Linked DNA regions of Homo sapiens: region 2 is linked to region 1. A link means that fine-mapping ties the variant in region 1 to the expression of a gene that starts in the linked region. Tissue or cell type: whole blood. Region 1 holds a variant in brackets; the other region holds the start of a gene. All regions are shown on one strand. Distances are between the middles of the regions.

Region 1 (8,107 bases):
TGCATAGAGCGTATTGAGTCCTTCTCAGAGGAGCACATCTGGAGGCACAAGACAGCCATCTGTCCTTCCTTGGTGATGTTAATTTTGATCACTCGATCAAGGCGTTGTCCAATTTCTTCACTGTATAATTACTGGAGTTTTTTGATCTTCTTTGCAACTAATAAGCAGTCTGTGGGGAGACACTTTGAGACCATGAAAACATTCTGTTCCTCATCAGAATGTTCCCCTAGATTTAGCAACCATGAATGATTCTTAATTGATCCCATCTTTACTAGGATAGTTGCAAAAGATGATTTTCCAACTCTAACAATCTCTCCACTTCGCCGGTTGACTCTCAGAATTCTCTCGTCAGCATAGGTCCTCCTTCTCCCCCACATATTGATAAATCTATTTACTATTGGTATAGATTCAGAAATTTCCATTTTTAAGGGTTTATATTTCATTACTTTATTATTTTGGTGCTCAAATAGTCCTAGATTTTGCCACCGGCAGCCCCTTTAAGCTGCTGACATTTCCCCCAAAAGTGCTTTTGATCATTCCTTATTTTCTGGTGTAACAAAACGTCCCAGGCTCACAATGTACCTACCCTGCCCAAGCTCTCAAATTAGTCATTTCTCCGAGAAACCCTGGGTAATGGTATTAAGAACCAAGATCTGCGAGCTAGTAGAATGGCTTTTCTTCTTGACCTTGTCAGCAGACAGAACTAGGAAATAAATACATATATGTGCATATACACATCCACGTGCACACAAAAGTGCATATACACATTCTACAAATCATGGGTTTGCATCTGTACCTCCAATTCCATGGAATCTGAAGTTTAACAGGCACCCCCGGGAAGCAAGCTCCTGCATCAGGCAAATCAGGAAGAACCTGCAAATGCTCATCAGAGGAGAAAGCAACCCACAGGAGGGAGAGGTGGGGCTGCTCCCTGCTCCCTGCACCGAGCAGGGCACCCTACAGGAATAGATGAGCCCGCTAACCTGCAACACAGGGCAATGGTGAGTCTTGCTTTGCTCCCCATCAGAGCATGTCGGAGATGCAGAACCCTCTTAATGGGTCTTAAATAAATGCTGGAGTGGTTCAAGTGATGTTTCCTCAATAAACAGGAGTGTGCTGCTAGGAGAAAGGAACGGGCTGAAAACAAGAACTTGGAAGGAAAGAATGTCATTGCTGATGGTGGACAACAGAATGTGTGTGCTGAAAAGTCAAATCAGTGATCCATTCTAGAACATCGGCTTGAAGCATCCAAGAATAAGGCAAAAGAGAAATAATTGGAAATTAAAGGGACAATAAATAAATGGGAATATCTCATTCATGGTAATAATTCAAGAAAAGCAAATAAAAATAACAAATATCTATATTTTTTGGTCCAGGAATGTTTAGGTAATAGAAACACAAAAGGAATCAACCTAAATAGAGAAAAATATATGAGATTTGTTAAAGAACATATAGGGGCTGGGGTTCCCTCTGCCACTGCATGTCACATTGCATCGCAAACTTTTTTTGGGGGTGGTGGGTATCCATCACTTCAAGCATTTCTCACTTATTTGTGTTACAAACATTCCAATTATACTCTTTTAGTTTAGGGTCTTTTGTTTTGTTTTGTTTTGTTTTGTTTTGTTTTGTTTTAAGACGGAATCCTGCTCTGTCACCCAGGAGTGCAGTGGCGCAATCTCGGTTCACTGCAGCTTTTGCCTCCCAGCTTCCAGAGATTCTTCTGCCTCAGCCTCCTGAGTAGCTAGGAGTACAGGCACATGCCACCACGCCCGGCTAATTTTAGTATTTTTAGTAGAGACAGGGTTTCACCATGTTGGCCAGGCTGATCTCGAACTCCTGACCTCAGGTGATCCATCTACCTCGGCCTCCCCAAGTGCTAGGATTACAGGTGTGAGCCACTGCACCAGGCCTAGTTATTTTTAAATGTACAAAAAGTTACTGTCAACTGTGGTCACCCTGTTACGCTATCAAATATTAGGTCTTATTCATTCTTTCTAACTATATTTTTGTACCCATTAATTATCCCCACTTGCCCCGTCCACCCTCACCCTCAACACCCTTCCCAGCCTCTGCTAATCGTCATTCTACTTTTTATCTTCATGAGTTCAACTGTTTTAACTCTTAGCTCCCACAAATGAGTGAGAACATGCAAAGTTTGTCTTTCCGTGCCTGGCTTATTTCATTTAACATAATGACCTCCAGTTCCATCAATGTTGTTGCAAATGACAGGATCTCATTCTTTTTTATGGCTGAATAGTATTCCATTGTGTGTATGTACCACATTTTCTTTATCCATTCATCTGCTGATGGGCACTTAGATTGATTCCAAATCCTGGCTATTGTGAATAGCCATGTTGCAATAAACATGGGAGGGCAGATATTGCTTTGATATACCTGTTTCCTTTCTTTTGGGTACGTACCCAGCAGTGGGATTGCTGCATCGTATGATAGTTCTACTTTTAGCTTTCTGAGGACCCTCCTTACTGTTCTCCATACTGGTTGTACTAATTTACATTCCTACCAACAGTGTATGAGGGTTCCCTTTTCTCTCCACATCCTTGCCAGCATTTGTTATTTCCTGTCTTTTGGATGAAGGCCATTTAAACTGGGGTGAGATTATATATCATTGCAGTTTTGATTTGTATTTCTCTGATGGTATTTTATTTGATTTGTAGCCATTGTAAATCGGATTACTGGTGGTATTTTCTTTGATTTGTAGCTGTTGTAAATGGGATTGCTTTCTTGATTTCTTTATGAGGCTGTTCTGTTGACATACAGAAATGCTACTTATTTTTGTATGTTGATTTTGTATCCTGCAATGTTACTGAATTTGTTTATCAGTTCTAATAGTTTTTTGAACTGCTTAGTTTTTTTCAAATATACAATCATATAATCTGTAAACAAGGATAATGTGACTTTTTCCTTTCCAGTTTGGATGCTCTTTATTTCTTTCTCTTGTCTTATTGCTCTGGCTAGGATTTCCAGTGCTATGTTGAATAACAATGGTGACAGTGGACATCCTTGTCTTGTTCCAGATCTTACAGGAAAGGCTTTCAGTTTTTCCTCATTCAGTATGATACTAGCTGTGGGTCTGTCATATATGACTTCTATTGTGTTGGAGTATGTTCCCAGTTTTTTGAGAGTTTTTATCATGAAAGGATGTTGAATTTATTAAATGATTTCTCAGCATCAATTGAAATGATTATATGGTTTTTGTCCTTCATTCTGAAGATACAATATATTACATTGATTTACATATGTTGAACCATCCTTATATTCCTGGGATTGTAAATGTAGATTTATTTATGCTCTCTGTTATTAGGCTGTGGGGCTCAAATTTTATTCAACCTAGTATAATTATCACCTAACATGATGCTTGGCCTGTGGTAAGCTCAATAAAGGAAAGGCCATATTTCTTAACCACAGAGCAATGAAAGTGGGAATTAATAACAAGAGCTTACCTGCTGCTTAGAAATCTCATCAACAGATGAATGGATAAGGAAAATATGGTGTGTGTATATATATATACACACACACACACACATATATACATATACATATATACAATGGAACACCATTCGGCCATAAAAAAATGAAATCCTATAATTTTTGGCAACACAGATGAACCTGGAGGAAGTTACATTAAGTGAAATAAACCAGGCACAGAAAGACAAATAGTAGTAATGTGTGTTCTCACTCATATGTGGAAGCTAAATAAATTGATATCATAGAGATAGAAAGTTGAATAGTGGTAACCAGAGCCTGGGCAGGGGAGGAGGAAGGGAGGATAGGGAGAGGATGGTTGACAAATACAAAATTACAGCTAGATAGGAGGAATGAGTTCTAGTGCTCACTGTAGGGTGACTGGATGTCATGGATGGAACTGGAGGTCATTATG[C/T]TAGATGAAATAAGCCAGGCACGGAAAGACAAACTTTGCATGTTCTCACTCATTTGTGGGAGCTAAGAGTTAAAACAGTTGAACTCATGAAGATAAAAAGTAGAATGACGGTTACCAGAGGCTGGGAAGGGTGTTGAGGGTGAGGGTGGACGGGGCAAGTGGGGATAATTAATGGGTACAAAAATATAGTTAGAAAGAATGAATAAGGCCTAATATTTGATAGCATAACAGGGTGACCACAGTCGACAGTAATTTATATAGTTAACAAGTATTTATTCTATATTTTCAAATAGCTAGAAGAGAGGATTTTGTGTGCTCCCAACACAAAGAAATGATAAACGTTGGAGATGATGGCTGTGTAAATTTCCCTGATTTGATTATTACATTATACACCTGTGGAAATATCAGACTGTATAAATATTATTAATTATTGTGTCAATTAGAAATAAAGAGAAAAGATGAGAGGCCAAAAGTAGATTGAATTATATATAAAATTGTAATAGAATAAAATAAGCATAAAAAGCTTTGCATTGAAAAAAGCTTACCTGCTGCTTGGAAATTCAAAATGCATGTAGAAATGTGTGTGGATGTATGTGCATGTGTATGAGTATATGTGTGTGTGTGGGTGTTTATGTGTGTGGATGTGTGTGTGTGGATTTGTGTGTATATACATATGAGTGTATGTGTGTACATGTGTGAGGGGGGATGTGTGTGTGGATGTGTATATGTGGATGTGTGAGGGTTTCTGTGTGTGGGGATGTGTGTGCATATGTGGATGCGCATGTGCTGTATGTGTGTGTGCTTGTGTGTGGGTGTTTGTGTGGATGTGTGTATATGTGTATGTGTGTGCTCTTTGTGTGTGTGGGTGTGTGGATATCAGTGTCCATGTGGATTGTGTGTGTGTGTGGATGTGTATGTGGATGTGTGTGTTTGTGTGTGTAGGTGTACTTGTGTGTGGGTGTTTAGGTGTGTGTGTGCTCTGTGTGTGTGGGGGTATATGTGTATGAATGAATTGTGGATGTGTGTGAGAGTGTGTGTATATGTGGATGTGTGTGCTTGTGTGTGTGCTTGTGTGTGGGTGTTTGTGTGGATGTGTGTATATGTGGATGTGTGTGTGTGTGCTTTGTGTGTGTATGTTTGTATGGGTATGTGGATGTGGATATGTGTATAAATGTATAGGTGGATGTGTGTGAGGGTGTGTGTGTGGATGTGTGTGAGGGTGTGTGTGTGGATGTGTGTATATGTGTATGTGTGTACTCTTTGTGTGTATGCTTGTGTGTGGGTGTGTGGATGTGAGTGTACGTGTGGATGTGTGTGAGGGTGTGTGTGTGGATATGTGTGTGGATGTGTGCTTGTGTGGGGGTGTTTGTGTGTGTGTATATGTGCCTGAGTGTATGTGCGGATATGTGTGAGGGGGTATGTGTATGGATGTGTGTGTGAATGTGTATCAGGTATGCTAGCTGTGATTAAGGTGTTGTGAGTTGGTGTGGGAAGGCATAGCCTCTACCTTGGGATGCGAGTGGGTATGTACGGATGTGTTTCTGCATGTGGTTCTGTCAAGGTGTGGTTTGTATACCAGCGTGGGCATCTGTCCCATTTAAGTTTGTGAAGAGGCGTGGTAGGTGTGGTGTGTCACCCGCAGTAGGCAGAAGCCAAGGCCTGTGTCTTCCAGGAGGTGCGGCAGAGTCAGCTGGCTGCAATGTGGCCAGGCTGTGGGCTTCCGGGGTTGAGTCCCTCCTGGCTGGCCCATCTATAGCCCTGCCATAGCAGGGGGCAGCGTGGTGGGGCAAGGGACAGGGGACGGGAGGACAGGGGCAGGGTGGCAGGGAGACACAGGGCAGACGACAGGGGTAGAGGCTGGAAGACAGTACAATGACTTGAGACCATCTCTGCAAATTGCACCAAAGTACAGCCCACAGCACCGGGCACCTCTCAAGCTGCAGCAGGGAGTAAGCTCAAGATCCTCCCACTCCTGTCTCCCTGGAGGTTTGAGAAAATAGTCCTGGCAAGGGGAGGGGGCAACATGTTCATTATAGGAAATAAGCAGCACAATTGCATTCTGAGAAATCCGCACAGATTTCAGAGCAGCACGGGGGCTCGCGGGCTCTGCGGGCCGTGGAATTCAATATGATATGCTTCAGCCTGTCAGCTAATGGCCTGCGGCTGGACGCCACGTGACCCAGCCTTCCTGGGGACGTTAAACGATGCTGAAAAGTGGCCCAGATTTATTTATTGGGACAGCGCTCCTGCCTGTGGGTTTGTGGGGTAATGACAAGTTATGAAAACAGGTGTGCGTGAGCAAGGGCGGAGGAGCCGGGGATTCCACACTACCCCAGAGCCTCCCTCCTGGCCCTACTGCTGAGTCTGCTGTGCACTGGGAACATGATGTCCCACCTGGGCGACTCACCTCCCCCTACCCCACCCACAGCATCAGTTTCCCCATCTGTTAAATCCATCCATCCATCCATCCATCCATCCATCCATCCATCCATCCATCCATTATTCCCTCTCACCTGTCATTCATTCATTCCCAGAACACTCCACCTTTTGTGTGCTGAGCCATGTTCTAGATGCACTGATGCAGCTTCCAACACAAATGACTAGGCTCTGCCCTCAGGGAGTTTCAATCCAGCAGGGAGGTGAGATGGCAATTGAACAGCCACTGTGAGAAGTGCTGTCAACCTGGCCTGCTTAAAACCCCTTGAGTGTGTGCCCTTCATCTCCAGGGCCATGCCAAGTTGGAGCTGCCAGCCCTCCCGCCTGGAGCCCTGCACCCACTCCCAGCCCACCCCTCCATGTCCTCGCTTGCCCCATCCAAATTGTAAGCTTGGTTACCTTTAAAAACACAAACCCAATAGTGTCATCTTCTGTGCACTCTCCAATGGCAAAGAGAAAATTTGCAACGGGGCCTGTGGGGCCTGGCTCTTCTCCTGCCAGCCTCCCCCTGCCCCAGGTCCTGGCCCTTCCCTCTGCTGGTAGTTGAGCCCTGCCTGTCCATCAGCAAGTTTCCCTGGCCCTTTGGCTCTGGGCAGGCAGGGGCCACATCTGGTTGTGCCCACACCAGGGTCCTGGGGCCCTGAGCCCCTGGGAGATCCTGATGGCAGAGGTGTTGGTGCCCACCAAGGTCCTCCTAGGATGCCCCTCTGTGAGGGGTCAGGGGCGGGCAGGGAACCTGCTCTCTGGAAAGGCCTCAATTGATAATCTGAAAAGCGCGCTAGACCTTCCAAATAAAAAGGTCTCCACTGCAGACTCGAGAGGCGTGCCATAATTACCTGGGAAGGGCAGGTCAGCTGCATTTTTTCAAATTTGCATTTTACAAAGTGTTTAATGGATATTTATATGAAAGAGCAGCCTATTGGGTAAATGCGTGACTTTAAATTAGGCTGAGGCCTTCCCCGCTCTGCTGTGCTGGCTGAGCTCGGCCATCAGTGGGGCCTTCGGTCCCTCCCTCCCTTATTCCTCCTACATGCAGGTCCTGAGGGCCCCTTCTGCGCCAGGCCCTGGCTGGGGTGGGATCCAGATATGAGGGGGCACAGCCCTTTCTGGGGTGTGCCTGGTAGAGAGTCACCATGAAGTGGCTTAAAGAGACACACCAAGGGGTGGGGGAACCACTTGCAAGAGCGGAGGTGGTGTACACCAACAAGCCCACATGGGGAGGGGCATTACGGGCAGAAGAAGGACCCGGATGCAGTGCTGGCCAGATGACAGAGCAAGGGGCATCTGGGGAGTGGCGAAAAGAGAGAGGAGCCATGAAGGAGTTCACAAGAGCTGGGCAGGGCTGCCTGGTGGGTCCCTGTAGGGGCGCAACTCAGGTTATCCGTGTGTCCCTGTCCTCTGTGCAGAGTGCAGCCTTCACGGCTGCATGTGGTGGTCCTGTTGGTTGGGGAGGGAGGTTGGTCTTGTTGGTGGGGGAGGGAGGAGGCTGGGCCCCAAATGGAAAAGACCCCCCAAACCAGGTGAGGAGTCGAGCTGAACCCCGGTGACGGGAAGCTGTTTTCTATCTGTGTGGGGGTGACACGATCAGTTTGGCATCCCAGAAAGGCTACTCTGGCAGCCTGTGGAGAACGGGCTGCAGGTGGAGAGACAGTTGGCCACCAGAAAATGGCCCATGTAGAATACATGTTTTTAAAAACGATGGCAAAAGGCTAATTCTTTTCATCTGCAAAGATGCTACAAATCAACAAGAAAAGGACCAGTAGAAGAATGGGT
Region 2 (8,107 bases), 150 kb before region 1:
TATACCCATATATACACATATATATACATACATATACATATATATTATATATATACATACATATACGTATTATATATATATACGGGTATATATGTATATATATGATGGAATACTACTCCGCCATACAAAGGAATGAATTAATGGCATTCCCAGAAACCTGGATGGGAATTGGAGAATATTATTCTAAGTGAAGTAACTCAGGAAAGGAAAACCAAACATCATATATTCTCACTCATAAGTGGGAGCTAAGCTATGAGGATGCAAAGGCAGAAAAATGACACAATGGACTTTGGGGACTCAGGGAACGGGTGGAAAGGGGGTGAAGGATAAAAGACTACAAATTGGGTTTAGTGTATCCCAAGTTACTGCTCGGGATATGGGTGCACCAAAATCTCACAAATCACCACTGAAGAACTTACTCATGTAACCAAATGCCAACTGTTCCCCAAAAACCTATGGAAATAAAAAATTTAAAAAATAAAAAACTGAGGGGATGCTTGAGCTGGGTCCTGAAGGGTAAGCAGGAATGCACCAGGTGGGTGCAGAGGGAAGACCTTGGTGGCAGCGGTCCAGGTCCCACCAACAGGGCGAAGACTGGTGGTGGGAAAGAGTGTCTGGAGGATGACCAAGGGGGCTGAAATGGGTTGGGGTGCAAGCGGGAGGTGGTCGCTTTTTGACACAGCTTGGTCTCTGAGAGTTCGCCTTGGGAGGCTTTTGAGGGGAGGGTAAAGGTGCTGGTGGTGGGGTTAGGTCAGATCTGATTTAGCCAGTCCTAGTACCCACACCCCTACTTACTAAACTTGCATGTTTCCAGGCCCCATCCAGACCCACTGAATTGAGCGTCTTGAGGGAAACTCAGAAATATGCCTGTTCACTGAGTGAAGGTGATTTGGGGGCTGCAGCCCTGTCCCCGCTAAAGCAGCACATGGGAGAGGTGGGAGCTGGGCCTATTCAGGAGCCCCTCTGGAGGTGGGAGAATAAGACCAGACCTTTAGCCCTGTAGGTACTGAGGCTCTCATGTTGGCAGGGCTGGAAAGTCCGATCTGTTGGTCTGTCACAGGAAGCAGTGGTAGCAATGGTGGTGGTGGGCACTGGAAGCAGGGCTTCTCCTGTTCAGAGAGAGAAAGCCACAGGGGCGCCGGCGGGAGGTGGGAGCAGATGGGGGGCCAGTTTCCCAGCAGGATTGATTCCAGGTCCCCTGCTGGGCTGTACAGGGAGCGGCCTTTAACTGCCCTGTTCCTGGGCCAGGAAGAAGGAAAAGGAGCCTGGGCTCTTTCTCTCCTAGCTCCTGCCCTGCCCCCTTCCCACTCAGTACCCGGAGAGTACCTGCCCCAGGCCCGTGGAGATGCTCGGCTCAGCTGGTTGGCGATGCCCATTCCCATCCCAAGGGTAGAAATGCACAAGCTTCCTCCATTTCACTAGCTGACCCTCCTTCCTCCACAAGGCAGATGGATTGGGGGTCCATACGTTCTCCCTATAGGTAGGGAAACTAAGGCACAGAGAAGGACTTGAAAAGCTGAAGTGGGGAGACCATGCCAGACCTTTGGAGCCCAGCTGTGCTTACAGATGAGGTCCTGAGTTCCAAGTTACTGCCCCCTCTCCCCTCCACACACACTCCTCAGACTTCCTGTTGGGGGCCCAGGCTAAGACCACTTGCCCACACCACTGATAACAGTGAGTTGATTGTGAGCCTCCCGTCCCCTCCAGGGAGGGCTGGAACCTGGCTGATCAGAGGGTTCCTGCTTTGGGAAACAAAATGGGCCAGATGAACTCAGGCCCTGGGAGCAGGACCGTTGCCCCCGTCCTGAGTAGGACTTCCTGGGAGTCCCTCACCCCCAGAACCCGTGGACCTGGCTACGGAGGTTAGTCATGCCTGGAAGTGCCAAGATGTGGACAGGTGGTGCTCAGAACCCCACCTACGTGAGGAGGCACTGAACTGGGTTCTGGCAGTTTGGCCAGAGGAGGATGCATGCTAACAAGGCCCCCAGCTTGCCTGGGGACTGAGTGACTGTGTGTGCGCTCTGTCCAGGGGCTTCTTTTTAGAGACGTTCCTGCACCATGTCTGCTGTTGAAAGGAGATAGGGCAATGCCTCCAAGCTTGTCTGACCTGCAGCCTACCGGCTGCATGTGGCCCAGGATGGCTTTGAATGCTGCCCAACACAAATTCATAAACTTTCTTAAAGCATGATGAGGTTTTTTTGTGTGTGTGGTTTTTTTGTTTGTTTGTTTGTTTTAGCTCATCAGCTATGGTTAGTGTGAGTATATTTTATGTGTGGCCTGACAATTCTTCTTCTTCCAGTGTGGCCCAGGGAAGCCAAAAGATTGGGCACCCCTGGCCTAACCCAAAGGAGGCTAAGGGTGTCCTCTTGGGCACCCTGGTTTTCCATCTTCCTGTGGGATTGGCCAGTATTCAGGGAAGAGGGGACCAGGGCAGCTGATAGCTCTGGACTCCTCAGACTGAGTTTGCTGGAGTAACACCCCTCCTGCCCCTCCCCCCTGGTCAGGGAAGGCGCCTGGCTTCCAGCTGTGAGACAGGCTCCGCAGGACTAGGGACCCTCCCCGCTGGCTGAGAGCGCTAGGGAGGGGGCTTCCCCTGTGAGGTGCAAAACCCGGCCTGGATTTCTGCCCAGACGGCCCCGCCCACTCCAGGGCCCCACCTTCCCCACTGTTCTGGAGGAAGATCCCCTAGCCGGCCTCAGGCACTTGCGGTGACTCACACCCCCCACCCCTAAGTCTGAATGTTGAGAGCCCCAGGCTAAGACCACTTGCCTCTGCCACTTTCCATGTGACTGAGGCAAGACCTCCTTGCCAAGGCCTCAGTTTCCCCCTCTGTACTTCAAAGGAGGCAGCTCAGGCAGGTGTCTTAATAATTTAAACGACGAATATTGCTAAAGAGATAAGGGGCGGGGAGAGAGAGAGATCACTGTGGGCCATGGTTAGGGAAGGGTGGAGGAGCTGGGTCCTGAAAGGGTGGACTTTGGTCGGGTGGAGAAAATAGCCAAGAAGGCAGTCCCTGCTGGCAGCACAGCAAAGAGAAGTGAGAATTAGGGGGAGCAGAGGTGAGGCTGGAGGGGACTTTGGTTGGGGCAAGATTATTTGGGGTCCAAATAACAAGGATGTTTAGACGTATTGCCATTGTGCTCTGGGGAGCCACGGAAAGCTCTTGAGCTGAGGAGTGACTTGGAGAAAGTTTTTCAGCCAATGCAATAGAGGGAGTTGGTACCTTTCCTTCTGCCACCCTGAGTTTCTGGTGCCTACGGTAGGGTAGGGATTGTTCTGCCCTGCCTTCAGTGCTTTGAGTGCTTGAAACAGACACCGTAATTTTAATTACATAAAAATGATACGTGTATCAGACGGGACAACCTTTAAAACGTAAAGAAGAGGCAAGTATCCTGCATCACAGGGGAGTCTTTCAACCTGGCTGGGCCAGGGCCTGCGGAGCAGTGAGGGTCGTTTCTCAGCCCAGCGAGCCTGGGGCAGGAACGGACCCTAATTGAAGGTGACCGTCCCCAAGCATGCGTCCTACCCCGGGCTCCGGAGAGCGCACAAGCAGGTGTGCACCGTCTACCCGCGCTGGCGGGATTGGGTGCCTGGTGCGCCCTCAGGTCGACGGTCGAACCCTCGGGGGCGGGGGTGGGAGCCAGAACCCTCGGGACGACCCGTCTGGGGTCCCGGGGAAACTCCGGGCCGCCTCGCCCCGCCGATTCCAGGCCGGGATTTCTCCCGCACTGACTTTCCGGGCCGGTGCCAGCCCGGCCTCCGGGTCCCCAGCCCCCGCCGCGGGGCCGGCTGCTCGGGGAGCGGGAGGGGGCAGGAGGCGGAGGAGGAGTTTGAGCGACTTTGTGGGGCAGCCAGGGCCTCGGCGGCCGCTCGGGCGAGCGCGGGAGAACGCGTGGGCGCCCGCCGGGCTGTCCGGAGCGGCCGATGGGGCCCGTGTGAGCGCGCCCAGGCCCGGCCCGGTGCCCGGCGGGCGGCAGCATGTCCGCGGGCGGCAGCGCCAGGAAGAGCACCGGGAGGTCCTCCTACTACTACCGGCTGCTGAGGCGGCCCCGGCTGCAGCGACAGAGGAGCCGCTCCCGCAGCCGGACCCGGCCTGCCAGGGGTAGGCGCCACCCCGACCCCTGACCCCTAGACCCTCCTAAGGCCACTAAGCCACCTGATGCCCTGGGATGCTAGGGACCGGGATCCTCCTTCCAGCCATTTGCCGGGGGTTTCCTCATCCGCCCCTTCCTGAGTCTGCCGGACCCCCCATTCCCCCAGCTTCTGCTTAGTCCTCCTCTCGCCGGGGGAAGCCGAGGCTCTAGGGTCTCCTCTTAAGCCAGGGACAGGGAGAGGGGAGCCTGGAATCTTTCTCCGCATCTCAGATCAGACCTCCTACCCCACTGTGCCTCAGTTTACTCAGCAGCCGGGCAATAAAGTAACCCAGGGTGGATCTGAGCTTTCCCACACCTTGCCTTCCCAGCCCAGGCCGCGGACTTCTTTCTTCCCTTTCCAGGAACTTAACGGGCTCCCCACCTCTTGGGTGCTAGGACAAGTGGGTGGACCTCAGGGAAGGAACCGTGACCCCTCGAGCGGGTGGGCGCCAGCTCCTTTGCAAAGTTTCTCTCCATCAAGCTCAGGAGGCAGGACGAGACGGAGGGGGAGGTGCGAGCAGCATTTTCTTTTTCCAGTAACAGGATCCTCGGCTGGAAATGCGTGTGATCCCGGGGGCTGCGTTTGGGCGGGTGGTGGCCGGGACTTCCTTCCCTGGCTGAGTAGGAGGGAGGGAAGCCCCTGGGAGGAGGAGGCCTTCAAAGGGGCTCTGGGGAGGCTGGAGTCCTAGGCAGAGGTTCAGGCCCACCGAGGGTGCCCGTGGGGTGGAAGGGAGGAGAAAGACGGCGCCTTAGCAGGGACCTGGGCCGAGTTGACACCATCAGGTTATCTTGAAAGTGGGAAGCCGGGCCCTGTGCCAACAAATGCCATGCAGGGAATCTGGTAGACCAAGAGGGGCCACATTCCCACCCTGCAGGCTGCCGTTGTGTGACCTGGGCTGAGCTGCCTCTGAACTTCAGTTTTCTTGTCGGTGTGAGGGTAAATGAAGCAGGCAGGTAGTGTTCGGTTGCTTCCACCAGAATGGGGAAGACTTTTCCCACAGTCAGGTCTGAGTAGCACTGTGCAGTCCAGGGCTTCCTCAGGAAGTAGTGAGTTCCCTGTGCACAGAAGGGTTCAAGCTGAGGCTAAGTGTGTGCACAGGTGTGTGCTGGTAGTTCAGTCCTCAAGGGTCTCTCAAAGCCTGCAATCCCCCCACTCCTGCCTTTCCTGAAGTCTTAGTAAGTACAGAATTAACAGTACTAAGTTACTTAGTAAGTACAGAATTAACAGTACTAAGCCTTTAGTACTCCTTGGAGGGAGTACTAAGCCTTTAGTACTCCTTGGAGGGAGTACTAAGCCTTTAGTACTCCTTGGAGGGAGTACTAAGCCTTTAGTACTCCTTGGAGGGAGTACTAAAGACCTGGGGAAGGCTTTATCTCAGTGGTTCAGGTTTTGGTTCTTCTATCTCTGTCCTTCTATTTAATTCTGTACTTGCTAAGACCTGGAGAAAGGCTTAGTACTGTTAATTCTGTACTTACTCCCTTCCCCTGGACTTGGTCTGGGAGACCGGGAATCTGGGCTCAAGCTTTGTGACTTTGGGCAAGTCATTTCCCCTTTCTGAGCTTAGTTTTCCTGGTTGTAAAATGGACCTGCCGTATGTGGAGGATTCAGTGAAGAAACTGAGAAATGGGAGCTTTGAAAATGCCCAGTACTGTTCAGACCACCCTGGGGCCTCTCCTTCTGCACCCACCTCACGTCACCTCACCCACCCGCCCCTCCTTTGCCTCAGAAATGCCCTGTGTGACCTTTTCCTCTTCTCACCTCAGCCCAGTTCCATCCCTGACTGTAATGGGAGTCTCGCTCCTGTTCAGCTGACCTCCTGCTCAGCTGACCAGGCAGGGGATAATCAATGTGTCAGGGGCTGTCACCTGAGCCCCAGCTCCCAGACCCCACATACACAGGATCACTGCTTGTGTCCCAGCTTGAAGGAGCTCACGGCCTGCAGAGCGGGGAGGAGACTGTCTCTGAACAGAAGTTATATCTGGGGAGATCAGGGAGAGCTTCACAGAGGAGGTGACATTTGGATGGGATCTCACAAAATGGATAGGGTTTCCCTTCGCAGAGGGAGTAATTGAGTCAGATCTGGGTTCAAGTCTCAGCTGTGCACACAACTATTCTACAGCCAGTTACCTCTCCAAGCCTCAGTGACCTTGTGTGGTCAATGGGGCTAGCAGTGACAGGGTCATGTGAGGGCCAGAAGCCAGTGCCTGGGACTAAGGCTGCAGCTGAGGGTGAGCTACTGTCTTCTCTCTGGACAGAATGAACAGACTGCGCAGTCAGGGAGAAGGAAAACGGCTTGGGTATTGAGAATAGAGTTCCTCCTGGGTTTGGGGAGGGGAGTGGATTGGGAAGGGGGCTGGGTGAGTGGGTGGGGAAGAGCAGGCAACAGTAGTTTGGATTTGATAAAGGGCCTTGAACTTTGGGAGGCCAAGGCAGGAGGAATCCTTGAGCCCAGGAGTTCAAGACCAGCCTGGGCAACATAGCAAGACCCTGTCTCAATATTGTTTTTGTTTGTTTGTTTGTTTGTTTTTTTAAAAAAAGAAGGCCTGGAGTGATGAGGAGTTAGTTACAGCTGCAGCCAGGGTGTAGGGTGGAGGCTGGAGGCACCCTGTCCTCCTCCTCCTTGGTGGGAGGCAGCTAGGGCAGCCATTGCCCTCCCTCCACTAAAGCCTCAGACGCCTGACTCTACCCCAGAGCCACAACCACCACCTGAGGGCAGGGCCCCACCCAGGGAGAAACTCAGGCTGAGGAAGCCACCCTGTGGCCTTTGAGCCAGTCCCTTCTGACCTTGAACTTCAGCCTCCCCATCCACATGGGGGCTTGGTCCCATGGTGTGGTAGCATCGGACCTCAGAGGAGTGGGTGGTGCCTAGCATCTCAGCCTGGATCAGACTCTTGCCCCCACACCCTTTCTGGCCTCTGGCACTAGCAGGGAAGGAAAATGACCAAGAACTCAGGCTGTGTATTTGTTCAGAAACAGAAAAATGCAAGGAAGAGTTGGTTGCTGCCAGGTTCTGCAGGTGGCCAGGCTGGGGGAAGGGAGCAGGGCTTTGTCCCTGGTAGGGCTGTGAGTGAGGGACAGTATCTGCAGTCTCCCTAGTTTGACCAATAAGGGACTTAGGTTCTTCCCTTTTCTGGGCTTCAGTTTCCCCATCTGAAGGATGGGCAGAGTGAGACCTGCTGTGGTGGGGGGTAGAGCACGAAGCTGGAGGGTAGCTGGAGGTGGGGTAGAAACAGTGACCTTCGGAGGGTGAGGGCCATTTGCATTTTCCCACTGTGTCCCTAACTCCACTTGAAGGCTGGGCATGTCCCATGGATTTGGGGGGATCCTTTCCCCAGAAGGGTATCATCAGCAAGGTGCCTCCCCACCTAGTCACACCAAAATCAAGAAAAGTTTTGTCTCTGACCCCTGTGTTTCCCCAGGGCTGCTAGGAGAAACAGAAATTTTCCTCTAGCCCTGGATAAAGTTCTGACCCATTCATTCAGCCAGTCAGCTCCTCTTAAGCACCTACTATGTGCTGGGCTTCAGCTTGGGTGCAGGGGCACATGGAGATGAATCACATGTGCTCCCAGCCCTTGCCAAGCCCCCAGTCTGTTGGGGAGGCCAGCTTGTTGGGGTGCACTAGGGCACAAGTCTCTTTCTAGGGGACAGAGCAGTGGTTAGTGGGAGGCAGGGGCTGTAGTTCCAGCTCAGCCGCGGACTGGTTGCATGACTGGGCACATCATAGGGCCTCAGTTTCCCCATCTGTCGAGGGGGGTTAATCTTGCTCTCCTGCCTCTTGGAATGCCTATACCCATAGCCATGAGGGGTTTTGATTATGTTGTTCATGTTTTCATCTGAGTTTTTCTAGGGGTCCAGCCACCTGCCAGGCCCTGGCTGGGAGCTGGGGGTTTTGCAGATGTTTTTCTCTTGAGATGGTCAGGTCCTCCTCCGTGCCTGTACACACCCCTCTTGCATGCCTCTGTATCTTGCCCGC

The links. PIP is the estimated chance that this variant, and not a neighbour inherited with it, causes the effect.
Region 2: it holds the start of DAB2IP, and the variant in region 1 is fine-mapped to the expression of DAB2IP in whole blood (INTERVAL, PIP 0.90).

The regions. Positions count from the first base shown.
Region 1 is chr9:121,802,052-121,810,158 of GRCh38, forward strand. No RefSeq gene overlaps it. Among named protein-coding and RNA genes, the nearest start is that of DAB2IP, 150 kb to the left of the region's middle. The variant C/T (reference allele first, on the strand shown) is at 3,899.
Region 2 is chr9:121,647,798-121,655,904 of GRCh38, forward strand. DAB2IP (DAB2 interacting protein) reads left to right here and starts at 3,837. Exons shown (of 16, transcript NM_001395010.1): 1 at 3,837-4,102. The coding sequence starts at 3,979. RefSeq lists enhancers at 1,579-2,414, 6,873-7,372.